Linked DNA regions of Homo sapiens. The protein of the gene in region 3 purifies or fractionates together with the protein of the main gene of each other region. This does not show direct contact. Each region holds a gene or a part of one and is shown on either strand. Other genes may lie near its edges. The genes, in order: POM121, NCAPG2, BSND, SLC38A10, SMC2, ACVR1B and NCAPD3.

What was found.
Region 1: the proteins of BSND (region 3) and POM121 purify together in Homo sapiens (affinity purification with mass spectrometry; one large-scale study listed by BioGRID and IntAct). This does not show direct contact.
Region 2: the proteins of BSND (region 3) and NCAPG2 purify together in Homo sapiens (affinity purification with mass spectrometry; one large-scale study listed by BioGRID and IntAct). This does not show direct contact.
Region 4: the proteins of BSND (region 3) and SLC38A10 purify together in Homo sapiens (affinity purification with mass spectrometry; one large-scale study listed by BioGRID and IntAct). This does not show direct contact.
Region 5: the proteins of BSND (region 3) and SMC2 purify together in Homo sapiens (affinity purification with mass spectrometry; one large-scale study listed by BioGRID and IntAct). This does not show direct contact.
Region 6: the proteins of BSND (region 3) and ACVR1B purify together in Homo sapiens (affinity purification with mass spectrometry; one large-scale study listed by BioGRID and IntAct). This does not show direct contact.
Region 7: the proteins of BSND (region 3) and NCAPD3 purify together in Homo sapiens (affinity purification with mass spectrometry; one large-scale study listed by BioGRID and IntAct). This does not show direct contact.

Annotation. Positions count from the first base shown.
Region 1 is NC_000007.14:72,942,095-72,945,446, forward strand, and holds part of POM121 (nuclear envelope pore membrane protein POM 121), read left to right. Parts: coding exon 1-1,428; intron 1,429-3,352. UniProt on the Homo sapiens protein: Essential component of the nuclear pore complex (NPC). The repeat-containing domain may be involved in anchoring components of the pore complex to the pore membrane. When overexpressed in cells induces the formation of cytoplasmic annulate lamellae (AL).
Region 2 is NC_000007.14:158,631,805-158,635,304, reverse strand, and holds part of NCAPG2 (condensin-2 complex subunit G2), read left to right. Parts: intron 1-3,500. UniProt on the Homo sapiens protein: Regulatory subunit of the condensin-2 complex, a complex which establishes mitotic chromosome architecture and is involved in physical rigidity of the chromatid axis.
Region 3 is NC_000001.11:54,997,569-55,001,732, forward strand, and holds the start of BSND (barttin), read left to right. Parts: upstream 1-1,364; 5' UTR 1,365-1,618; coding exon 1,619-1,795; intron 1,796-4,164.
Region 4 is NC_000017.11:81,278,308-81,281,807, forward strand, and holds part of SLC38A10 (solute carrier family 38 member 10), read right to left. Parts: intron 2,427-3,500; coding exon 2,302-2,426; intron 1-2,301. UniProt on the Homo sapiens protein: Facilitates bidirectional transport of amino acids. May act as a glutamate sensor that regulates glutamate-glutamine cycle and mTOR signaling in the brain. The transport mechanism remains to be elucidated.
Region 5 is NC_000009.12:104,111,309-104,114,808, forward strand, and holds part of SMC2 (structural maintenance of chromosomes protein 2), read left to right. Parts: intron 1-272; coding exon 273-506; intron 507-2,007; coding exon 2,008-2,167; intron 2,168-2,655; coding exon 2,656-2,773; intron 2,774-3,382; coding exon 3,383-3,500. UniProt on the Homo sapiens protein: Central component of the condensin complex, a complex required for conversion of interphase chromatin into mitotic-like condense chromosomes.
Region 6 is NC_000012.12:51,975,699-51,979,198, forward strand, and holds part of ACVR1B (activin receptor type-1B isoform a precursor), read left to right. Parts: intron 1-628; coding exon 629-877; intron 878-3,500. UniProt on the Homo sapiens protein: Transmembrane serine/threonine kinase activin type-1 receptor forming an activin receptor complex with activin receptor type-2 (ACVR2A or ACVR2B).
Region 7 is NC_000011.10:134,199,968-134,203,467, reverse strand, and holds part of NCAPD3 (condensin-2 complex subunit D3), read left to right. Parts: intron 1-269; coding exon 270-326; intron 327-562; coding exon 563-652; intron 653-3,500.

The DNA.
Region 1 (3,352 bases), on a different chromosome or scaffold from region 3:
AGCAAAGCTTCCTGTTTGGAACACAGAACACCTCACCTTCCAGCCCTGCCGCCCCTGCTGCATCTTCAGCACCTCCCATGTTCAAGCCCATTTTCACGGCTCCACCCAAGAGTGAGAAGGAAGGCCCCACACCGCCTGGCCCTTCAGTCACAGCCACAGCGCCCTCCAGCTCCTCCCTCCCCACGACCACCAGCACCACAGCCCCGACCTTCCAGCCTGTCTTTAGCAGCATGGGGCCACCTGCATCTGTGCCCTTGCCTGCTCCCTTCTTCAAGCAGACAACTACTCCCGCCACTGCTCCCACCACAACTGCCCCGCTCTTCACTGGCCTGGCCAGCGCCACCTCTGCTGTGGCTCCCATCACCTCTGCCAGTCCATCCACAGACTCTGCTTCGAAGCCTGCGTTTGGCTTTGGCATAAACAGTGTGAGCAGCAGCAGTGTGAGTACCACGACCAGCACCGCCACTGCCGCCTCACAGCCTTTCCTCTTCGGGGCGCCCCAGGCCTCTGCTGCCAGCTTCACCCCGGCCATGGGCTCCATATTCCAGTTTGGCAAACCTCCTGCCTTGCCCACAACCACCACAGTCACCACCTTCAGCCAGTCCCTGCACACTGCCGTGCCAACGGCCACCAGCAGCAGCGCTGCCGACTTTAGTGGTTTTGGCAGCACCCTCGCCACCTCCGCCCCGGCCACCAGCAGCCAGCCCACTCTGACGTTCAGTAACACGAGCACCCCCACGTTCAACATTCCCTTTGGCTCAAGCGCCAAGTCCCCGCTCCCATCATATCCGGGAGCCAACCCCCAGCCCGCATTTGGGGCCGCTGAGGGGCAGCCACCGGGGGCCGCCAAGCCGGCCCTTGCCCCCAGCTTTGGCAGCTCTTTCACTTTTGGAAACTCTGCAGCCCCGGCTGCTGCACCCACACCTGCACCTCCGTCCATGATCAAGGTCGTGCCTGCGTACGTGCCTACGCCCATCCATCCTATCTTTGGCGGTGCCACGCACTCGGCGTTTGGGTTGAAAGCCACGGCTTCGGCCTTCGGCGCTCCCGCCAGCTCACAGCCCGCCTTTGGCGGCTCCACTGCTGTCTTCTTCGGTGCAGCCACCAGCTCCGGCTTTGGAGCCACCACCCAGACCGCCAGCAGCGGGAGCAGCAGCTCGGTGTTTGGCAGCACAACACCATCACCCTTCACGTTTGGGGGTTCGGCAGCCCCCGCTGGCAGTGGGAGCTTTGGGATCAATGTGGCCACCCCAGGCTCCAGCACCACCACCGGAGCTTTCAGCTTTGGAGCAGGACAGAGTGGGAGCACAGCCACCTCCACCCCCTTCGCAGGGGGCTTAGGTCAGAACGCCCTGGGCACCACCGGCCAGAGCACACCGTTTGCCTTCAACGTGAGCAGCACAACTGAGAGCAAACCTGTGTTTGGAGGTAAGGAGGGGCGTGGACTTGGGCTACCGGGCCGGACACTGAAAAGCTGTGCCTGCGAAGCCTGTGGTCTCGGGGAGCTTATGCTGTGGCAGTGAAGAGACAGGCACTGAATATAGAACTCAGTGAGATGCCAGGGAACGATACATGTTTTGCTAACGTAGTAATGACTGGAGGAGCCATTGTGGATTTAACTGGTCAAAGGCCTTCTGAGTAGTTAACAATTGTAAGCTGAAGGTTGGGCGCAGTGGCTCACGCTTGTAATCCCAATATTTTGGGAGGCCAAGGAGGGTGCATCACTTGAGGCCAGGAGTTCAAGACTAGCCTGGACAACTTGGCGAAACCCTGTCTCTACTAAAAATACCAAAAAATTAGCCGGGCGTGGTGGTACCCACCTGTAATCCCAGCTACTCAGGAGGCTGAGGCACAAGAATGGTTTGAACCCAGGAGTTGGAGGTTGCAGTGAGCCAAGATCATGCCACTGTACTCCGGCCTGGGTGACAGAGCAAGACTCTGTCTCAAAAAACAAACCGTAAGCTGAATATGGGGGTGGGCACAGCACAAGTGGACATGCCTTTCAGGCCCAGGATGGCGCATGCAAAGGCCCAGAGGCAGAAACATGTTTGGTATGTTGAAGAGCAGAACAAAGACAAGCATGGCAGGAGGGCAGGAGCTAAAGCAGTGGTGTGGAAGGAGGCCAAGAGGCAAGGATTGTTTGTGGCCAGGGTTGGGTGTTTGGGTCTTAAGTGTTCAGGAAAACCATTGCAGAATCAGGCAGAAGGATGCAGTGATGGTTCCTCCCATGTGGAAGATGAATGTAGATCCCATGGCTTCTGTTTGCTTCGTGAAGTAGAGAAAATCTGGGAGAGAGAGGGTCAGGATAAAGTGTATAAAAAAAGGGGTCTTTTGAAATAGTCATTTTGGACAGTGGGGGAAAGGAACATCATATTAAAAAGTGTGATCAGTTTCCAGGCAGTTTGTGGGCTGGAAAATTGTGATTGTGAAGTTAAAGTGAGGCCAGTTAGCATGGCATGTGTTTCCCAGCGACACTGTGGGTGTAGACCTAAGGTCAGCGGACAGCTGGTGCCACCCGGCCATGGAGACCCCAGCAAGCACAGCAGGAGGGGCAGCGGGTCAGTGCCCCGATGCAGCTCAGGGGGTGCAGGAGTGGAGAGCGGGTGAAGTCAGCTGCAGGAGGGGTGGTGCCTACAGGAGATTCGGGAGCCGGAGCAGTTGTGGTGACAGTGTGGCTGCAGGAGTGGTGGCAGGGGTCGGGGAGAGGAGGTCATGGGGGTGGCAGGGTTGAGGGGCTGAGAGGACCATCAGTCAGCCTCACAGGGCGAAGTCACCGTGAGTGGTGATGGGAAGGAAGCCAGTGAGCCAAGGGTCCTCTGTGAATCAGGGAGTGACCTGGCAGTTGACAGGTGACATGAGGACATGGCAGATTAAAGTGATCTGAACTTGAGTTACGGTATTTAGGGAAGGAAGAGAAACAGTGTGGAAGCAGCGTGGGAGCACAGGGAGCTTCCTCTTGTCCGGGCCGGAGGCCAAGCCCTGAGAGCAGCCATCCCTGCAGAGGGGCTGCCAGAGAGGGCCTCGGGCAGGCAGCCAGAGCCAGTCAGGGCAAGGCCGGGGAAGGGAGGGGACCACGGGGCATCACAAAAGACGCGGGACGGACAAACCAGGCTTCAGAGGGGAGGGGACGGTGGCTGGGGGAAAAGGCCTGAACAGAGGAGGTAGCCAACCCAGGTACGCTAGGAGGCGGGGGCCCCAGAGTACTCCCCTCTGCAGCGATGGTCAGGAGGCCCACGAGGTGGCTGCGGGGCAGGGGGGCTTTTTCTCTGCCCTGGCGTGGCCATTAGCGGGTGGGAGAAGCAGGCTGAGCTGGGGCACCAGGCATGAAGACTCGGTTGTCTGGCTCAGCTGC
Region 2 (3,500 bases), on a different chromosome or scaffold from region 3:
AATTCATTTTATTCTGCTTTAATTTTAACAGTCTTTTTTTTTAAACGAATTTGAGGCTGGATGCTTTTTATAGCTTATTTAGTGGTATGCTTCCATCATCCATACCCAATGAAATTGGTGTGGATAATTTAAAAGTATTCATGTGTAAAACCACCCTTTAATAAATACAGACACTGTCTTTTTATCTTACGGTTTTTCTCAAAAAATTGATTCTGCTGTGTTTCTTGTGGCTGTGATCACCAACATGTGATCCTAACCTGACATAGAAGGAAAGGTGGCGAAGTTTTGAGTCCTCGTGTTTGACACATTTTACAGACGTTAGTGCTGAGGGGACTTGCACATGGTCTGGTCTGTGTGTCTTGTTACATATCAGGAGAACCCTGGCCCAGGGAGCTTTTTGTCTAAGCTTTTTGTCACTGTCCCTTCCAACTTTAAAATTCCTTCATTTTGTTTTCTTCATTTGTTCTTTAGTAGTTCTTATTTCTCTGATTTACATAGTGTGTTCAATTCTTGCTTCAGGTAATAGAAGAATGAGTAAATTTGTATTGCAGTAGTGTTCCAGTAGCAGGAGAAAAATGGCCTGGGTTTAAACCCAGACTGCCCTTCCCATCTGAGTGGTCATGGGCAGTTTGCTTTACCACTTTTGCCTCAGTTAGCTTATCTGTTACAGGATAACGATAAAGAGTCATTCTTGTTGCCAGTCTAGACTTAGGTCAGTGTAAGTAGCTCTTTACTACCTGGTAAATGAGAACACTTGGCCCTCCGTATCCATGGGTTCCACGTTCGTAAATCCAACCAACCATAGTTTGACAATATTTGGGACAAAAATGGATGGTTGTGCCTGTACTGAATATGAACAGACTTTTCCTTGTCATTATTCCCTAATATAATATAACAGTATAGGATAAACAATATAGTATATAGTATAACAACTATTAGTATAGTATAACAATATAGACGATATAGTATATAGACAATATAGTATAACAATTATTACCATAGCATTTACCTTGTATTAGGTATTATAAGTAGTCTAGAGATGATTTAAAGCATACAGGAGGATGTGGGTAGACTATATGCAAACACTATACCAGGGACTTGAACATCTGTGGATTTTAGTATCTGGGGGGTCCTGGAACACATCTCCCACAGATAGTGAGGGTTAACTGTACTTTTAACGTAACATTTTTCTCTAAAGTATTTTTAAATTCATGTTCACTTAAGGAGACAATATTATTTTTGAGTAATTAAAAATTAATTTTAGGCCAGGTATGGTGTCTGTAATTCCATCACTTTGGGAGGCTGAGGCGGGCAGATTGCTTAAGCTGAGTTCACTACTAGACTGGGTAACATGGTGAAACCCCATCTCTACAAAAAATACAAAAAAATCTGCTGGGTGTGGTGGTGTGCACCATAGTCCCAGCTACTTGGGAGGGTGAGCTGGGAGGATTGCTTGAGCCCGAGAGGTCAAGGCTGCAGTGAGCTGTGACCTCACTGCTGCACTTCAGCCTGGGTGACAGAGCGTGACCCTGTCTCAAAAAAAAAAATTAATTTTAGATTTTGGAGGGTTCATGACTTCCTGGGCCTGTTCTCCTCTGTCTTGCCTCTGGCTGCACTGCTGCTGAGCCAGGCAGTTGCTGGGCTGACAGGTGGGCGGAACCTGGTCTGTGGACAGAGAGCACTCTCTTCTCCTTGGGGGACTCAGGGAATGGGCAGGAGACCCTGAGGCAGCAGGTCCAGTAGAGGCCCAGCGAGGCTGGGAGAGTGAAGGGGCTGTGGGGCACCCAGAGTCTCCTGTGTCGCTGCATGGCAGCCTCCACATAGCTGTGCCCTCACCCCTGGTTCAACACAGGCAGAAATAACCACACAGAGGGTGGCCCAGGCGCTTCCAGAGTGATAGTGGTGGGTGAGTAATAAGAGTCTTTGAAGAAGAGTCAACTGTAACCCCGAAAGGACAGTCTAGAGCTCAAGTGTCACAGACACACTACAGAGATGGTTCCTGTGATAGTCAAATTCCAGAAAGGTCAATTTGGAGAGATGTCTCAGAACATAGACCATAAATACTCACGAGGAGAGGTCACGAGGGTGGGGATAGACTTGGGGGAAAAGGCCCGAGAGACCTAACAGCAAGGAGAAGCAGTGATTCAACAACGATAGGAAAAAATTCCCCAGAGCTTAAAGAAATATATGCAGATTCCCTTTTTTCTTTCACTACATTCTGGATTGATGGAAAAAAAAAATCACAGCTAAATAATTATGGATAAGATTCCTAAATTCCAGGAATAAAGAGAAAATCTTAAAATTTTTCTAGATTCATGCAGGCCAATACAGTGGCTGCTGAACACATGAAACCTGGTGAGTCTAAGCTGAGTGTGGCCCTCATAGAAAGTGCAAGCAGGTTTTGAAGACAGTATGGAAAAGAGAATGTGAACTATGTCATAAATAATTTTATATTGATTACAAGTTGAAGCATTTTGGATATGTTGGGTTAAATAAAATATATTAAGATGAATTTTGCTTAAAAAAATAAAAAGAAGCAAGGTCTTGATCCATTGTACCCTTTGACCTGTTTCAATGTGATTACTGGAAAATGTAAAATGACGCATGTGACTGGCATTGACATTACAGGGGCTGTGGTAGACAGCAGTCTGTCTCCAAAGGTGAAGACCAGGTAGACATGAGTCTCACTTGCAGTGCTGGACACAGGAAGACAATAGGATTGTAAGAGTTTTAAATCTCGCTGAGATTCATTTGGAGTGAAAGGTAGATATTTGTGTCCAGGAGGAATTCAGAGATGAGCTTTTCTTTATTGCTTCTCTGAGGAGACTGCTTTGGAGTGCCCTGTAATGGAACAAGCATTGGAGCCATGCAGGAGTTGTGGGACAGTAAAAAGGGAAGCCATGGTGAGCCACGCACTTTGTAAATATGTGTATTTGAAGGAACAGTGATATGCTACCTGTCTAATAATGATTCTTAAAATAGGCACACTGCCAGGGAAGTGAGGACAACGTCTGGCAAGGAAAAGTACTCAGTGCTCTCAGCCAAAGCCGCGGCCTAGGTGGGGCTGGGGAGGACGTGAGGAGGAAGAGTCTCGCCTTGAGGGACAGGGATGTAGGGCAGGGGAGTGGGAAAGTGAGGTTTTTCTAAAGGCTTCAGGTTATTAGAGGTAGTAGGTAAATGTCATGGTAGTAGAGTATCTTGGTAGGTCACATAGTTTTTATTTATCTTGTTTTCTTGTGTAATAGAGAAATAGGCTCAGAACTGTGGGTGCTGGAAAGGAAGAGCACACGTCCTGTTTGCTCACCAGCATAGCACACTGCCCAGTGAGCACGTTTCATTGCCTGGCAGTGCTTGGTGTCCACGGTCAACCCAAGCCTGTGCTCCAGTGCCATGTGTCCTGACTGCTGTGGGGATTCTGACTCCATTTTACATACAAGAAACAATTAATGAAACATCTATAGATTATTTCAACTTTGTTTTTAAATGCATGGTTGCAAACC
Region 3 (4,164 bases):
GGACATGACCTGATAACTCAGCCCTTTCCTGCCCCTCAGCCATCGCTCAGCCAGGGCCCCTGAGCTCCCTCCAGGACCTCCTCTGCGAACTGTCAAGTGCACCTGGACTCTGAGGGCTGGCGATGGTGGGTGTGAGGAAGGAGAAACCCCTGTTGGAAAAAGGGCCTATGAGAAGGACGTCTAGTTAGAGGGGCAGCTGTGAGCACAGGTGTGGGGTTAGGGAACAAGGGCAGCCCTGCTGGCAGGAGGGGAGAAGGTGATGACCGCCAACAGGAAATCCCCAAGCCCAGCAAGTCAGGGAGCCCATTGAAAGCCTTTTATCCTGCATCGGCGATTTAACCCCATGTAAACGCCAAGTGAACATTCTCTTGTAGAGACCGATGGTCCTCATTTTCCTGTAATCCTGTAAAGGAATCTGATTTCTTCCATCAGCCTGTCCCTAGGACTAAAATGCCTCATTAGTGTTATTCTTAGGAAGGCATCTTCCTAGATCAGGCTGCAAGGAAATGGAGGAAGTGACTGTCAGTCACTCACACCCTGCAGGGGCACTAATTCCGAGAGCCTTAGGGGTGGGTGGGGAGCAGTTCATTGAAAGCCCAACTGGGTGGTGCATAGCGTGTGAATGTGAAGGGGATGGAGGAACCCAAGGAGGCCAGGCCTGGAGACAGCACCAAATCTGGGAGGTACATTATTATTCCCATTTTACAGAGGAGGAAACTGAGGTAACCTGATCATGACCACACTGCCCCACAGTAGAGGAGCCAGAATCCAAACCCAGGCAGCCTGCCTTGCCACCAGAGCCACGCTTTTCACCCTCAAGCTGCAGTTAAGAAGTATCACGCCGTGGCTAGGCCCACGGCCTCTGGCTTCACATCCCACTAGCTCTGCCATCTTTAGCTGTGTGACCTTGGGCAAGTTACTTGTCTGTGCCCGAGGGTCCTCTGTAAAGTGGGGATAGTAGTAGCTGCTTCACTGGGTTCCCTTCAATGAGTTAATAGCTGTAACATGTTTAGAATGGTGCCCTGCACATAGTCACCAGCCAGTACATATGGGCCATTATTCCTGAACCCTGGATAGGCACATGTCCTTGAAGAGTGTAGAATTCTTCAGGATTCTGAAATGCCAGCCTGTGGGATCCTGGAATCCTCCAATAGCATTCTAACAGCTCTCAGCTGCAGAACTGTACCCTGTTTTCTAGAGCTGGAAGGTGTGAGGCTGCCTGTCCACCCAGCTCAACCCCACAGTAGGCAAATGAGGTGATGTCAAAGCCTTGGCTGGGGCCCAGCCCCGGTAACCTCCCACTCTCCCTCCCCTGTGTGCTCCCTCGCTCAGATTCACACACACACTCCAGGCCAGCCGGGCCCAGAGGGAAGGTGAGAGGGCAAGGAGTAAAGGTGGCTGGGTGTGGGTCCGTTGAAGCGAGCCGCCTCCAGCCCTGTTGAACTGGTGGGCCCAGGGACTGGAGCGGGATTGAAAGGGATCTTGCTCTCCCTTGAAGCCTTGAGTTGCAGCGATTTCAGTGTCTTCTCTCCCTGTGTAAGCCTGTCTCGGTGTTTAGGCTGAACTACAGCCACCCCCTCTCCCGGGGGTGTGCAGGCCAGGGACTGGCCAGGCAGCCATGGCTGACGAGAAGACCTTCCGGATCGGCTTCATTGTGCTGGGGCTTTTCCTGCTGGCCCTCGGTACGTTCCTCATGAGCCATGATCGGCCCCAGGTCTACGGCACCTTCTATGCCATGGGCAGCGTCATGGTGATCGGGGGCATCATCTGGAGCATGTGCCAGTGCTACCCCAAGGTAGGTGGTAGTGGGGCTGGGTGGGGCCAGGTCAGCTGGGGCCAGGAGGGCTGGACACTGTGCCTGTATGCCATGCCTCACCCCCTATCCTTTAGTTGTCTTTTCATTCTTCTCATTTTGACTCGGTCTTCTCTCTGCTCTCCTGAGCGTCTGTCCCATCCATCCATCCATCCATCCATCCATCCATCCATCCATCCCTTAGCCTAAGGGTTGATCAGAAGGCCCCTGGATCTGGAGCCCTGAGCCGGAAGCTATGGTATAGACACAGCAAACACAACACACCATGTGCTTGAAACAAAAGCTAATGAGCGCTGACCCCCTGCCAGGCACTCCTGCGTTCAGGGTGCAGTTCAGCCCTCATCCTAAGCCTTTTGGTGCTTTCTGTAGTTCCACCTTCTGAGCCTTTCTGAGGTCCAGAAAGAGAGGCTGCACAGCTAACGAGCAAGGTTTGGAGCTCAGATGCGTGTGACTTACACGTCACCCTTCACCTTGGGTCTTCTACCTCTGGGTCCCAGAGCGACTGAGAGCTCCAGGGTAGGTCAGGTCTAACCTTGGTGGCATGCACTGGGCAGTATCCTTTAGAGTCTTCATGTATTCTCAGCCTTATGTGTAATTTAGTGATGGGAAGAGCACTGGTTTGGGAGTCCTGAGTTCTAGTTCAAGTCCTGTTCCAAACTCTCTATGACCTTTGTCTTTCTGAGCCTCATTTTTTTCATCTGCAAATGAGATCCCTGCCCCTATTTTCCACAGAGCTTCACAGGGTCATTATAAAGATCAGAGAAGAGATAAGATATAGGAATATTTTGTAAACTGTAAGGTGTTATTTATAGATGAAGGGCTACCACTGTTACCCATACTGATCCTCCCAACAGCTCTGTGGAATGGAAATGCCAGGAGTTGCGAATCTTCAATGCCTAGAGAGGCTGGGTGACTTCCAAGGTCACACAGCTGGTCAGGTACAGACCCAGGGAGAAAAGGAGGGAAATAGGGACTCTAACTTGGGCTCTGTCTCTTACTGCCTGGGAGACTTTGCTCAAGCCCCTTTCCTCTCTGAGCCTCAGTTTCCTCATTTGTACACTGTGTGAGTTAGGAGGGGGGGGTGGGAAAGGGGGTATATCTGGGGGCCCTGCTGGACCTAATATCTAGGGCTCCAGGTCCAGGCAGTCCTCAGCAACCCCCACACCTCCTCTCCTCCCACCTGGGTGGCTGTGCTCAGGGTTTCAGGGAAGAAGGGGGATGGCTCCCTGGGGCCTGGGCCGGCTCTCCCCAGCCCTGCCCCCTCCACGGGCCAACCCTGGGCTGTCATTCTGTTCAGTGCTGGAGCGGTCTGGGCTGGTTTGTAGTCATTTAGCAGGCAGTTTACAGTCAACTTGCCTCTGTCTGTGCAATTCCTTGAGCAGAGGTCACTGGGAGAAGTCCTTGGGGCCAAAGCCACTCATGTCACCACTGCTATTATAATCCTTCTCCCAGTGAGGAGGCTGGACCCTGGGGGACAGCAGAGGGATGGCAGAGGTGTGGAGAGGAGCATCCTTCCTGCCCCCGCTCTTAAATAGAGCTGGCTCTGGGATGGTTGGTAGGCTGATGGGAGTGACGGTAGAGGGGAGGGGAGGGGAGGAGGGAATATTGCTGGGTATTAATGAGTAACTGTTGATAGATTCATGGGTTCACGTGCTGTGGAGGCAGCGTGGTGGGCTGAAAATGGCACATGTTGTGGCAACCTCCAGGCCCAGATTCAAATCCCTGCTCCTTCATGTCCCACTTCTGTGACCTTGGCAGAAAGAGTCCCTCCCCCTCAGCTCTGAGCCTTGTACGGCTGATTGGGAGAACACAGTGGGATCGTGTGTGTGTGTGTGTGTGTGTGTGTGTGTGTGTGTGTGTGTGTTGGGGGAGACCTGGCATCACACCTGCCATGGAACATATGTGAAGGCATTGTTCTTAGGATTGAGGATTGGTATTTGCGGCACTGGGTGGGCCTCTGCATGAGTGCAGGTGTGTGTGAGTGTGTGTTTCAGAGATGCAGGCTGGTAGAGCCAGCACAAATTGACTCCAATAAGGGAAGGGAGGAAAGCACCTTATAAACCAGGGAGACACTCTAGAGGCGAAGCTCCCTGGATCCTGCTTGGTCTCATTGGTGCCTGGGCCAACGCTGCCTGCAGTGCTCCTGCCTGTCCTCCCCTCAGCCTCCTCCCCGTGGCTCTCTGTGCCAGACCTATGGAAAGTTTTGATAAATGGGGAGATATAAATATAAGGGAATAGAATTAGCTAATTAGGATATAGGGGTGAGGGGTAGCCAATACCAACATGCATTAAGCTGTCCATGTCTTTTAGGGGCTAGAGGTCTAGTGGGAGAGGCTATTTGCTGCCTGATG
Region 4 (3,500 bases), on a different chromosome or scaffold from region 3:
CGGGAGGTCGAGGCTACAGTGAGCTGTGATCGCATCACTGCACTCCAGCTTGGGTGACACAGCAGGACCCCATCTCCAAAAAAAAGAAAACCCAGCAGACTGACAAGTGAGAAGGTCCTGCCAGCAGCTGCTGGTGTCCCGTTGCCCAGGTCCTAGCACACCATCCCATCAGGCCGCCCTCAGCATGGAGTGCCATCAGCAGCAGTCAGGGGACCCCGCAGGACATGAGCCTTCCCCTCGGCCCAGGCTAGAAGGGAGCTAAGTGGCCAACGCCTGTGCACACAGCCCCAGGAGGCTGGCAGAGAATCAGGAGAAACACCCAAGAGGTCTCCACGGCCCTAGACCCACAGCTACAGAAGAAGGCCATGTTGCGGCATGAACTTCCCAGTGCTAAACTGTCCTCTCGCCACAGCTGAGTCCACACCAGGGAGTCTTGGCTTGAGGGGACCAGCGTTGGTGCCCCATGACACGTGCTTACCCCCAGCCCCCAATACACCCTGTGGGGAGTGACCCCCAAGGAAGCCACGGACACTGTGGGAAGGGGTGTCCCACGCACACGGGGTGGCCAGGGTGGAAGGCCAAGCCCCAGGCTCCTCTCCAATCCTGACCACCTACCCCAGGGACCCCCGGGATCATCCCTGGAAAGAAACAAGGTAGGAGCCACAAAACCTCCTGGCCACCTGCAAAGGAGCTCCACAGATGGGGGACATGCTGAGCGCTGGCCCATGGCCCCAGACGGAGCATCCCTGGCCCGCCCACCTTGCAAGGCAGCCTCTGAGCCTCAGGGCCTACCAGAGTCAAATGGAGCCATCCACATGCAGCTCTTGGGTGTGTGCCCCTCTGCCCTACTGTGAGGATGGGGACCCTGGTCTCCAGATAGACCCTGACCTCCAGGGCCTCCTGGGCTCAGTGCTGCCCGGCTGCTTCTCTGGGCCTAGGACAACCATTCTGCATAACCAGGTATGCATTTACCAAAAACGGCCAGATAGTGAAGGCACAAGGGAGACCTGGCCCCAGCTGGCATCCAGGCCAATCACACAGGCAGGGGGCGCGGCCCGCCACCCAACAGGGACAGGCACTCTGGTGCAGTGACGCTGTGGGAGGGAAGAGATGTCTCTGCTCTCAGAAAACATTCCTGGGTTCAGAGGTGGGGAGGTCAGCACGGCGGCCGGCACAGGGGTGGGGAGGTCAGCGCAGCGGCCAGCACAAGGAGGGATGTCCCTGCTGGGGAGAATGTCAGGTGAATCCGTGGGCCTGCACATCCTCAGGGCGGGACAGAAGGAAAGCTGCACTTGTTGAGCCGCACGCTCCAGCGCTTCAACCCAGCACCTGACTCCGGAACCAGACCCGAACGAGGTGCACCGGCTGCTACGTGGCCACCACCAAAAAGCCCCAGCTGCAGATTTATTTCTAAATATGCAAACACGCAGACACAAAGGGCAACTGGTAACTAGGTACGTGGCGGAAGAATGCGGCTTCTGTCACCGATCATAATGGGATATTAAACAGCAAGACTGGGGCGCGTTCTGGTGGAGATGGAGCTGCCAAGAGAGACGCTAAGTGGGAAATGACGATTTGGATCTCGCATGTGGGTGTAAACACAGCGGTATGAACAAATTTCATCTGTCACATTAGTTTACGATTGGCTCAATGCATGCCCACTAACGCTACAGGGGCCGCTCTGCCAGCCCCCCGCATGCCGATGGTCTTTTCCCGTCTGCGCCGGATTTACGCCTCTCTTTTCAGCCGGTTACCATGTTCCAACCGGGCACGAATCACTCGCTCTTGTCATTTTGGTGGAGAAGGTAATGCTGCTGGAATTATGGAAGAGCCCGATCCACATTTACAGAGCCCTGCGTGCCAGAGAGAAAGCAGGCTCGCGCGCACATGCAGGCCTCCAAATGCATCCAGCAGCCGTCTGAAGTCAATGTTTGTGCCATTTCCTTTTAAATATTCTCAGAACAGCTAAATTCTGGCGAAGCGCTCGACTCTGTGCAGTCAGATGGCTGGGTTGCTGCTGCATCCCCCACAGCCAATGCTCTGCTTGTGGGGATCTGGCAAACCAGGGACTCTCACCAGCTAGTCCCAAACATGTCCCAGGAATGAAGCCGATTTACCTCCCGATTAAAATATAACTATCTCCCTCAACCTGGGGCGGGAAAGGTCATCACTGAACAAGACATCACTCTTTAGCAGCCAGCAAAGAGCGATCACAGTAAACGAGAAAGAGAGGGTCCCGTCTCCCAGCAGCTCGCCCTCCCCGTCACAGAACTCCACCACAGACCACAGCAGGACACTTACGACTGGCAGGCGAAGGACATGCCGAAGATGGGGATGCAGCGGAAGACGCCCTCCCAGCGGACGTAGCTGACCCGCCGCAGCCACTGCCCACTGAAGAGGCCGTGCTTGAGAGAGGAGAGCACGATCTGCAGAGGGAGAGGGGAGAGAGCACGGGGCAGGTCAGGACGCAGGCGGGACTCAGCATCCCGGCCCACGCGCCGCTAGGAAGGAGTGGCAGGAGAGTGCAGCTCTTCCCACCCACATCCCAGCCCCCCACCACCCTGTGCCGCCCTGTGCCGCCTTGTGCCGCCAGCTGGAGGCAGGGAGACCCCGCGCCTTTCTGGATTCCCAACCCCTGCCTCAGAGCACCCTGGTTCATCCCGCGGGCACCAGAGCAGCTGCTCTTGCAAGGGGGCTGCTTGGCGCAGACGGGAGGAGACCACTGAGCATGCATGGCCCCAGTTTCCGTCGGTTACAGAGGCTGGTTTCCCACGTGGGCAGGTCCCTCCCCATCTTGTACTGTGTTAGACATGGACATTTTCCAAAAGACTGGCCCACCAGGACGCGGCTGTCTCAAGAGTAAAGAGGTAGCTGCCACTGGGCTGGCCCTCACTCGGAGAGCTGAGGAGCACTGGAGACCCTGGCTTCAATGACCACCTGGCCTCGTCCTGGTGCAAACCCGCTGTGAGACACCCAGGTTCCAGCCACTCAGGAAGGGTCATTTCTGACCTTGCCAGGGAACAGGAAGGTCCCAGGGGCTCGGGTCCTGGGGCTCCTATGGGCAGGGGCCTGGCAGAGAATGGAGGGTGTGCTGGGGGCTCTGGGTGGTATCCGTGTTCTCAGTGCCAACTCCACAGCTGGCCCCTAGTCCATCCTATTATAAATTCTCATTTAGAAAAATAATAGCGGCCGGGCGTGGTGGCTCATGCCTGTAACCCCAGCACTTTGGGAGGCTGAGGCGGGTGGGTAACAAGGTCAGGAGTTCGAGACCAGCCTGGCCAAGATGGTGAAACCCCTTCTCTACTAAAAATAAAAAAAATTAGCCAGGTGTGGTGGCGGGCACCTGTAATCCCCGCTACTTGGGAGGCTGAGGCAGGAGAATCACTTGAACCCAGGAGATGGAGGTTGCAGTGAGCCGAGATTGCGCCACTGCACTCCAGCCTGGGCGACAAAGTGAGACTCCGTCTCAAAAAACAAACAAACAAACAAACAACAATAGC
Region 5 (3,500 bases), on a different chromosome or scaffold from region 3:
TGTTTAAATCTGCAATTATTATTTAGCCCAATGTCTCATGGATTTAATTTATAACATGGAATGAACCAGTAGTATAAGAGTTATATTTATTCTAAAAACTGAGAGTGAATTTCAAAATGATAATTCAGTATTTATAAAGTTATGATGGTTAAATTATTTTATTATGCTCACTCCAAATTGCTATGGAATTTTATTACATAAGGGTATGCGTATAAGAAAGTGGGTGTTTTTCCTGAAATATAATATTTTTCCATTTGAAACTCTTCCTAAAGGACTCAAAAACTTTAGCAGCAAAGGAAAAAGAGGTTAAAAAGATAACAGATGGACTGCATGCCCTTCAAGAAGCAAGTAATAAAGATGCTGAAGCTCTGGCAGCTGCACAGCAGCACTTCAATGCTGTTTCCGCTGGCCTGTCCAGTAATGAAGATGGAGCAGAAGCAACTCTTGCTGGTCAAATGATGGCCTGTAAAAATGATATAAGTAAAGCTCAGACAGAAGCCAAACAGGTAAATAGAGACATTAGCACTATGTGATTGCTTTTTTTTCCAAGAAGTTTCTTTTCATGTTATGCTTTGGCAATTGTTACATAATGTTGAAAATAATCAGTCTCAAGGAACTTGTTTGTTTACTTTATTCTGCAACTCTAATGCCTAATGCAGCGAAATTCAAATATGTTGATTGCTAAATATTGGTGATGTTAATTTGTGAAGATGCTGTACTACATAAATTATCTTAATTCGGTATGTAAGTGCAATAAATGCTTTGTTCTGTTTGCAGCATTGTGTGGAATTTTCGAGATTAATGCATTTATTCTTGTCTCTTTTTGGCTATTTTTATTTTTTATTGATAACATAATGTTGAAGTCTTAAGCTTTAACAGGAAAACAGGATTGTCCTCCCCATTGCTTTGCCTGCCATACCTAGTTCTTAAAACCTTGTTTCTCAAACTTTACATTTTTTTAGGAAGTATCTCTACCTCACATGTAGCCACATTCTAGTCTGCTCTCCCTACTCTGATTTCATAATCTTAAAAGTCTTGTCAGTCTATTATAATGTTTCTCAGATTTTACATAGTAGTGCAACTTACAGTCCTATGAACATAAGAATTTTGCTAGCAGAAAAAATACATGTACACAGGCACATCATTGTTTTGTTTTTAATGGAAGACACAGATTTTAAAACATGTACACAAATGTGTGTGATTATGCGTTAATCCTCAGGTTTTTCTCTTTATATATTTGCAACTTTTTCATTCAGGCATGACAGATGATAGTCACAAATTTATAAGAACTCTCAATAGTAGAAAAGCTTTAAAGTACTCTACTCTCAGTTTGTCTATTATTTTATAAGGGAACTGGGAAAAATACATCATTATACAGTTTTGGAGGATACCCCCATCTAAAACCCCATCTAGGTTTTAGAATACTAGTTCATAGTTTTAAGAAGCAGTGTTCAAGTGTATAAATTCTTGAAGGCCTGACACATGTAATTTAAATAGTTCTAGCATTTAATTATCAGACTCAGCATTTAAGTTTCTCTGTCAGTTTAGCTTCTTTTCCTGTATAATCTTACGTCTTATTGCTCAATTCAGTTTCTTTACTGTTATTAGATAGCACTCACAAATATATACACATACAAATATGAACAACTAAGCGGAAAGGAAAAGAACGAGAGTTGTGATTTCTAGCGTTCTTTTTTTAATTACCAGCTACTGACAGTTATTCGATATAATCCTTCAATTTGAATATGTCATATTTTATTAAAAATACGGACTTAAATTTCAAATTCTTTTACATATTAATCATATATTAGTTTATACTTTGAGTAGTTTTTTGAGGAGAAAATACTGGGAAATGACTAATTTGTTGAAATACTAATCCAAGAGACCAAACAATTAAACTTTGAAGGTTAAGGTCTCTTAGTAAAACCAATCTGAATCTTCGGCCATTTAATTACTAGCACTGTCTGCCTCATACATCCTATGGTCTGTTGCATTTTTCTGCCACAGGCTCAGATGAAGTTGAAGCATGCTCAACAGGAATTAAAGAATAAACAAGCTGAAGTTAAGAAGATGGATAGTGGCTACAGGAAGGATCAAGAAGCTCTAGAAGCTGTAAAAAGACTTAAAGAAAAACTTGAAGCTGAAATGAAAAAGCTAAATTATGAAGGTTTGCCTTTAAAAACATGATAATCAGATCATGAGGAGGTAGTGATTTTTGATAAAAAGCTAATTTAAATAAAGAACGCAAGCAAGTAGGAAACATTTCTTAGCCTATTAACAAGCATTAGTATAAGAAGTGTTGTAAATATCGTCAAAAAATACCTAATTATAAAACAACTCTTGAATTTTTGAGAACTCAGTATTGAGAATTTCCTGCTTCAATCATTTGAAAGCTCAAAAATGTCATTTGTGTATTTCTACATTAGGCATTCAGTTTGTATGTTATTTTTTGGAATGAAAATTGTGTTATTTGCCGTTGGAAATAATGTCTGTTTGACAGTGGATAGAAATAGGAAGGTTCAGCATGCTTTTTTAATACTTACAGAAATTTGTATTTTTTGCATGCTTTGGAAATAGTGGTTGCTAATATTTTCCTTAAAACAGTAGAGTGAGCTTTTAAAACTTGGTTTTAATTTATTATGATTTATCCTTCAGAAAATAAAGAGGAAAGCCTTTTGGAAAAGCGCAGGCAGCTGTCTCGTGATATTGGTAGATTGAAAGAAACATATGAAGCTCTATTAGCCAGATTTCCCAATCTTCGATTTGCATACAAGTAAGAGACTTAAGCCTTGAATTTTAACATAGTAATAATCAAGACATTTTTATTTAAGCTGGAAGCAGTGTGAAAATTTTGTCGAAACCAAGATTTTTGTATGAAACTTGTTGTAAGCTGCTTTTCTTTCATTGGTATTTTTCCTTTAAACATTTGTTGAAATGTTTTAAATGTTGGCAGGGAAATTCTTGTGAAATTTAATGGCTAATGATGCCACTAATCTTAAAATGAGGGAAATTTAATCTCAGTTCAAAATGTCTTCAGAGTTACTGTATCATTAATGTTAAATATCCACATTTACATCTTATAATTTGTTTTGCTATGTGGGTTTTTTATGGAATATTTACAGTAATCATATGTATTATAGGGATTAGAACATCAGAGTTGTTCTTACTACATTGAAACATACTGAAAGATCTATTGTGATTTAAAAACAACAGCTGGCTAGTCATTTGGGACATTTTAAAATTTTTGGTTTGTTAAAACCATTTTGCTGATTCTACTTTCATTTCACTTTAATGTGTTGTCCAAAAGAGCTCCTGATGAGTAAAGTATAACTTTTTCTACTTTATTATCTAAGATTAATTTTTGTCAACTTTTGTATTTCAGGGATCCAGAGAAGAACTGGAATAGAAATTGTGTGAAAGGACTTGTGGCTTCTCTGATTAGTGTGAAAGACACTTCTGCAACCACAGCTTTAGAATTAGTGGCTGGAGAACGACTCTAC
Region 6 (3,500 bases), on a different chromosome or scaffold from region 3:
GTTAGTCCCAGAGGTGCCCGCAGTGTTTAGAGTAGTGGCTTAGCAGCCATAGGCAGCGGTGAGGAGTGGAAGAACCAGGCAGGGATTCCCACGGGAGGATGTGGGACTGATCCAGAAAGAGATGGCCCCAGAGCCGAGCAAAGGTGACTCCTCAAGGGAGGATGATGGTTAGATGTGAGGAGGGACCAGAATAGGAAAAGGCCAGTGACCAAAGCCGAGAAACACCACATACCATCCTTTTGCAAGCCTACCATTCAGGAGGCATTACTGTGGAGCCCACAGGAAAAGGAGAGAAACTAAAGCAGAGCTTAGAGGAGCTGTGGGAAGTTAAAGGGCAGAAACAGGCATCTGTGTAGGGGCCTGAGGCGGGGATAGTACCACGAAATGCGTGAGGTGACAAAGTGGGTTGTGGGTTTGACTGTGGAAAGAGGTGCCTTAACTAAAGAAGTTGGGCATTTGAGAGCATCTAGGCAGCAAGACTAGCCCAGAAGATTAGAGAGATCAAGGGAGCCTGAACACATCGACAGGGAAAGGGGTCTTTTTCACTCTTCACTTTGAGGGGGGTGTTTTTACTCTTTCCCTTGTTTTTACTTCTCATTCTTTCCCTCTCCTCTCTCACTTGACTCAGGTCACCTCAAGGAGCCTGAGCACCCGTCCATGTGGGGCCCGGTGGAGCTGGTAGGCATCATCGCCGGCCCGGTGTTCCTCCTGTTCCTCATCATCATCATTGTTTTCCTTGTCATTAACTATCATCAGCGTGTCTATCACAACCGCCAGAGACTGGACATGGAAGATCCCTCATGTGAGATGTGTCTCTCCAAAGACAAGACGCTCCAGGATCTTGTCTACGATCTCTCCACCTCAGGGTCTGGCTCAGGTACCAAGTTCTTCAGGGCATCATGTCTGTGGTTGGCTTTCATCAGTTTCCCAGCAGGATAGAGTGCTTGTAGAGAAGGCTGGAGGCCCTGCATTTGTTTCTACCAGCATTGAGTCATTTGGTTTCCTAGTTCCCCTTCTTTTGGAGTCTGACGTGTAATAAGATAAGATAATGGGTTCACAGAAAATCTCTCATTCCGTGGGATTCCCAAGGTCTAGTACACAATTATCCACTACAGAAGTCCTGCCTCTCTAAGCTTTGCAACTGTACGTACATCTATTAAAATTCAGCTGGTCCCACCTGAGCAGTGGAGTGCTCAATTTCAGGGCCCCTTTTGAGAAACAGGAGTGTGCCAGATTCCTGTGAGGTGGTGACAGCTAATCATTGATCTCTGAGCAACCACAAGGGGAGTTTAAGGACATCCAGTAAAGCTTAGAGTTGGGATTTGGTGAATCATTGACTTGTACCAGTTGCCCAAGGGTTTTTGGTGGGGGTGAAAATAAAGGCAGTGTGGGCCTCCAGCATAGCATCAGCACTATTTCCTGTACTGCCTTTTGTTGACCAAGTCTTTCTCAGATGAGGGAAATGAACCAAACACTGGACCTTGGCATAAGACGAGAATTTAAGATAAAGGAGCTCGGGGTTGTTTAGGTCTCAGGGTATAGCTCAGCTAGCTATTAAATGTGAACATGAATGCAAAAGAATTTTTTTACTTACTTATTTATGTATTTATTTATTTAGAAACAGAGTCTTGCTCTGTTTCCCAGGCAGGAGTGCAGTGGCGCAATTTCCGCTCTCTGAAACCTCCACCTGCCTGGTTCAAGTGATTCTCCTGCCTCAGCCTCCTGAGTAGCTGGGATTACAGGAATGCGCCACCACAGCGACTAATTTTTGTATTTTTAGTAGAGACAAGGTTTCGCCACATCAGTCAGGCTGGTCTTGTGTTCTTGACCTCAAGTGATCCGCCTGCCTCGTAAAGAATTTTTTTAATGAAGATAAACCATTATTTTTGTGACAATGGTATTGCATTCCTTTTTTTTTTTTTTTTTTTTTGTTTTAAGATATGGTCTCGCTCTGTTGTTGCCCAGGCTGCAGTGCCATTGTGCAATCACAGCTGACTGCAGCCTTAACCTCCTGGGCTCAAGAGATCCTCCACCTTAGTCTCCTGAGTAGCTGAGATGTCAGGCATGTGCCACCAAGCCTGGCAATTTTTTTTTTTTTTTTTTTTTTTGTGGAAGGTTTCACTTTGTTGCCCAGGCTGGTCTCAAATTCTTGGCTTCAAGTCCATTCTTAAAAAAGAAAAAAAACATCCACAAAGATCACTGTTGCCATTCTAGCTAAAACGCAGAGGATCTTATTTGTGAGAACTTTGCGTGTTTTTATGTATGTTTCCTTGACGTGGGACAAGACTGTTGTTCTGTGGGGAAATTATGCCATCAGTCATGCCCAGACATTCTGCTTGACACGGGAGTACTTTGAGCTGTGACATCTCCTGAATTTCAGTGGCTTTGCTTTTATTAAGCTCTGCAGTAGAGAGCACCAAAATGATGGATATATTTAAAAGCTGCATATTTTTAGAAACAGCAAAAATCTAGGGCTTGTTCCTTGTTGAAAGAGGTAGGGCAGTGGTTAGAACCTCCTGGCTGACTGTGGGAATTGATTTGCTGCTAGAGGAGGGTAGATTGGGTTTTCCAAAGTCTTTTTAAGACCCAGACCAGCTGAAACAAGGGAAGGGCCATGGTAGTTGTTTAGTCGTCTGTGGTAAAATGGTTAATAACTATTTCCCTCTGAGTGGTTTAGTATATTCTTCATTCAGAATATGCAGAGCTTCCAAGGTGTTAGGTTTCTAATAATGTGGTTTTTAAAGTAGTAAGTCCATGCTGCTCATATGACTTTCAATTCATTTAAATAAGTATATACTGAATACCTTCTGGGTGATATGGTTTTAAACAGATTAGAAAGAGCCTGACCCGGCCAGGCGCGGTGGCTCACGCCTGTAATCCCAGCACTTTGGGAGGCTGAGGTGGGTGGATCATGAGGTCAGAGGAGATCCAGACCATCCTGGCTAACATGGTGAAACCCTGTCTCTACTAAAAATACAAAAAATTAGCCGGGCGTGGTGGCGGCGCCTGTAGTCCCAGGTACTCAAGAGGCTGAGGCAGGAGAATGGTGTGAACCTGGGAGGCGGAGCTTGCAGTGAGCCGAGATCACGCCACTGCACTCCAGCCTGGGCAACAGAGCGAGACTCCGTCTCAAAAAAAAAAAAAAAAAAAAGGCTGACCCAGGATTGGATCAGAGAGACAGGAATTGTTGGGAAGAGTCTCACAGAGGAGGGCACATTTAAAGGAGTCTTGAGGCCGGGCAGATCACATGAGGTCAAAAGTTTGAGACCAGCCTGACTAACATGGTGAAACCTCGTCTCTACTAAATACAAAAAATTAGCCGGGTGTAGTGGCACACGCCTATAATTCCAGCTACTTGGGAAGCTGAGGCAGGAGAATTGCTTGAACCCGGGAGGCAGAGGTTGCAGTGAGCCCAGATCATGCCATTGCACTCCAGCCTGGGCAGCAAGAGCAAAGCTCCGTCTCAAAAAAAAAAAAAAAAAAAAGGCCAGGCACGGTGG
Region 7 (3,500 bases), on a different chromosome or scaffold from region 3:
AAGGCCTTTTAAAAGTATTTCAGATGTTCATATCTGAGAGGTGACATTGGTGGCTACCTTTACTGTTGCTTTGCATTGGTGGGCATTGGTCGTATTAGGATGAATCTCCGTTTCAATGCATACCCAAGGAGAACGTTATCAGTTGTCAGCAATTTAGAATCTGTCTGCCTTGTCTTTGAGCCTAATTATCTTGATTTTGATTCCTCCGTGGATAATTACTCAGTTTATGATACTGACTTCTTCCTTCTTATCTTTCTTCTTGTTTTTAGGTCCTACGTTTTCTGTAATAGAGAGTCACCCTGGTACCTTACTGAGAAATTCATCAGGTAATGGATCAATACATTTTCAAATATTGAATGATTATCTTTTAAAAATTTGTGGAATATTTAAAATGTTTTTCTTACCTCCTTATTTACCTGCTTTAACATTGTACTTTTTTCATGAGAGAGGTTGAAATTCATTTCAGTAATAATGTTGTAACTTAAATGAGTAACATGCCCTGCTAATGTTATTAAAAGTATAACACATTTTTAGCTTAATGACTGTAATTTTTTTTTTAAAGCTTTTTCCTACCAAAGGCAGACATCTAACCGTTCCGAACCCTCAGGGGAGATCAACATAGACAGCAGTGGTGAAACAGTTGGATCTGGAGGTATGTCAGATTTTATCACTGTCAGATAGGTAATACTGCTGGATTTCAGACAACCGTAAGTAGAGTCTAAAACCTTGGATTTTTTTTTTTTTTTCTGATTTATTCACCCCTAAGAGTTGAAACAGCTGGCTGGGCGTGGTGACTCATGCCTGTAATCCCATAATCCCAGCACTTTGGGAGGCTGAGGCCTGCAGATCACTTGAGCCCAGGAGTTCAAGACCAGCCTGGGCAACACATCAAGACCCCATCTCTTAAAAAATATATATAAAAATCAGCTGGGCGTGGTGGTGTGCCCCTGTGGTCCCAGCTACTCAGGAGGCTGAGGTGGGAGGATGGCTTGAGCCCAGGAGTTCCAGGCTACAGTGAGCTCTGATCATACCACTGTACTCCAGCCTGGGCGACAGTCTGTTTAAAAAATTAAAAAATGAAAATAACACTGCAGGGCAGTCTGCTTTTTTGTACCAGCTTAGTTACTAAATAGCTGCATGATCTAGGGGTATACCTGTCGTTTTCCGGTTGTAACACCCTCCCATCTTTCCCAGACGACTGTTGGGAAAGTCTGTAGAAACAACATTTAAGAAAGTGATTTAAAGAGAGAGAGACACAGATAAGAGAGAGAAAGAGCATGTACGTAGAGGATTAATTACATAATTGGGTTTATTAATTTATTCAATAAACCTTGATCTGGTCCTTCCCGATGCGTTCCAGGCATTGGAGATGCACAAGTCTGTGAGACAGAGCTCCATCTCTTAAGGATCAGTGGAGAGACAGGTGCTTGTGCACACAAGTGTTCTCATATATACAATTGTGCACACATGTATGCGGAACACTGAGATAGGTGCCGAGATGCACAGAAAGCGCCCTGAGGATGATTACATTACTGCTTTTATTATTCAGCCTAGAAGGTCAGCGTGAAATTGGGTTCAGGAGGCTAGATATTAGCATGTATTACTCCAATTCAGAGCGATAACTACATTTATAATAAACAGGTTTTCTAAATGTGGTAGGAAAATGTACTCTGGAAAAATGCTGAATGTTTGTGTTGGCTCCAGACTTCGTCTAAACAGGTTACGGATTTACGGTGGCACAGACTTTTTCAAGCAATATCAAGTTGAGGTGATTTAATGATGCTTAAAAATTATGAAAGTTCGGGGACGCAAAGAGCCCATGTTTCCAGTGCATTGTTCATAAGCTGAAAGGACATATATTGTTGGCATTAATTGTACATTAAAAATTTTGTATAGTCACTTAGATGCACTTTGCTCTCTTTGCTTTTTCTTATTAAGGCAGAGTTCACACACCATAAAGTTCACCATGGAAAGTGTATAATGTAGTTGTTTTAGTATAGTCACAAGATTGTACAGACTAATTCCAGAACATTCCATCAGCTGAAAAATAAACCCCATAGCCATTAGCAGTCACTCCCCATGCCCCTTTCCTCCTAACACTGGCAACCAGTAATTTTCTTTCCTTATAAAATTGCCTATTCTGGGCCAGGCGTGGTGGCTCACACCGGTAATCCTGGCACATTGGGAGGCCGAGACGGGAGGAGGATCACGAGGTCAGGAGATCGAGACCATCCTGGCCAACATGGTGAAACCCCGTCTCTACTAAAATACAAAAAATTAGCTGGGCGTGGTGGCACACACCTGTAGTCCCAGCTATGAGGAGGCAGAGGCAGGAGAATCGCTTGAACCCAGGAGGTGGAGGTTGCAGTGAGCCGAGATTGCGCCACCGCACTCCAGCCTGTTGACAGAGCGAGACTCTGTCCAAAAAAAAAAAAAAAAAATTGCCTATTCTGGACATTCCGCATAAATGCAGTCATGTACTGTGTTGTCTTTTGTGTCTGACTTCTTTCACCTATAGCGTGTTTTCAAGGCTCATTCATGTTATAGCATCTATCAGTACTTCATTCCTTTTTGTGCTGAGTAATAGTCAGTTATAAGGATACACCACATTTTGTTTATGCATTCATCAGTTGATGAACATTTGGGTTGTTTTCACTTTTTGGCTATTGTGACTAATGCTGCTGTAAGTATTCTTGTATGAGTTTTTGTATAGATGTGTGGTTTCATTCCCTCTGAGTGTATACCTAGGAGGAGAACTGCTGGGTCGTATGGTAACTCTATATTCAACATTTTGAGGAACCACCACACTTTTTCAAAGTGGCCACACCATTTTACAATCCTGCTAGCAACGTATGATAATCCTATTTCTCTGCATTCCTACCAACACTTGCCATGTCTGTCTTTTTTATTTTAGCCATCTTTGTGGGTATGAGGTGGTATCTGCTTGTGGTTTTGATTTACATTTCCCTAATGGCTAATGATGTTGAGTAAATTTTCATAGGCTTATTGGCCATATACATACGTTTTCTTTGGAGAAATGTCTATTCAAGCTCTTTGCCCATTTTTTAATTGGGTTATCTTTTATTTTTGAGTTGAAAGAGTTATTTTTATATATATACCTTATCAGATATATGATTTTTAAAGACTTGTCCCAGTCTGTGGGTTGTCTTTTCAAATGGTATTCTATGAGGCACAAAACATTTTAATTTTGATGAAGTCCAATTTATCTTTTTCTTTTTTTACTCATGCTTTTGGTATCACATAGCTAAGAAATCGTTGTGTAATCCAAAGTCACAAAGATTTACTCCTGTGTTTTCTTCTAAGGGTTTTATAGTTTTAGCTCTCACATTTAGGTCTTTGATCAATTTTCAGTTAATTTTTGAATATGGTGTGATATAGGGGGTCCACCTTCACTCCTTTGCATGTGACTATCCAGTTGACATAGCACTGTTTCTTTCAGCCTGTTCCTTCACCTGTGAGTGTCTTGGCACCCTTGTAAA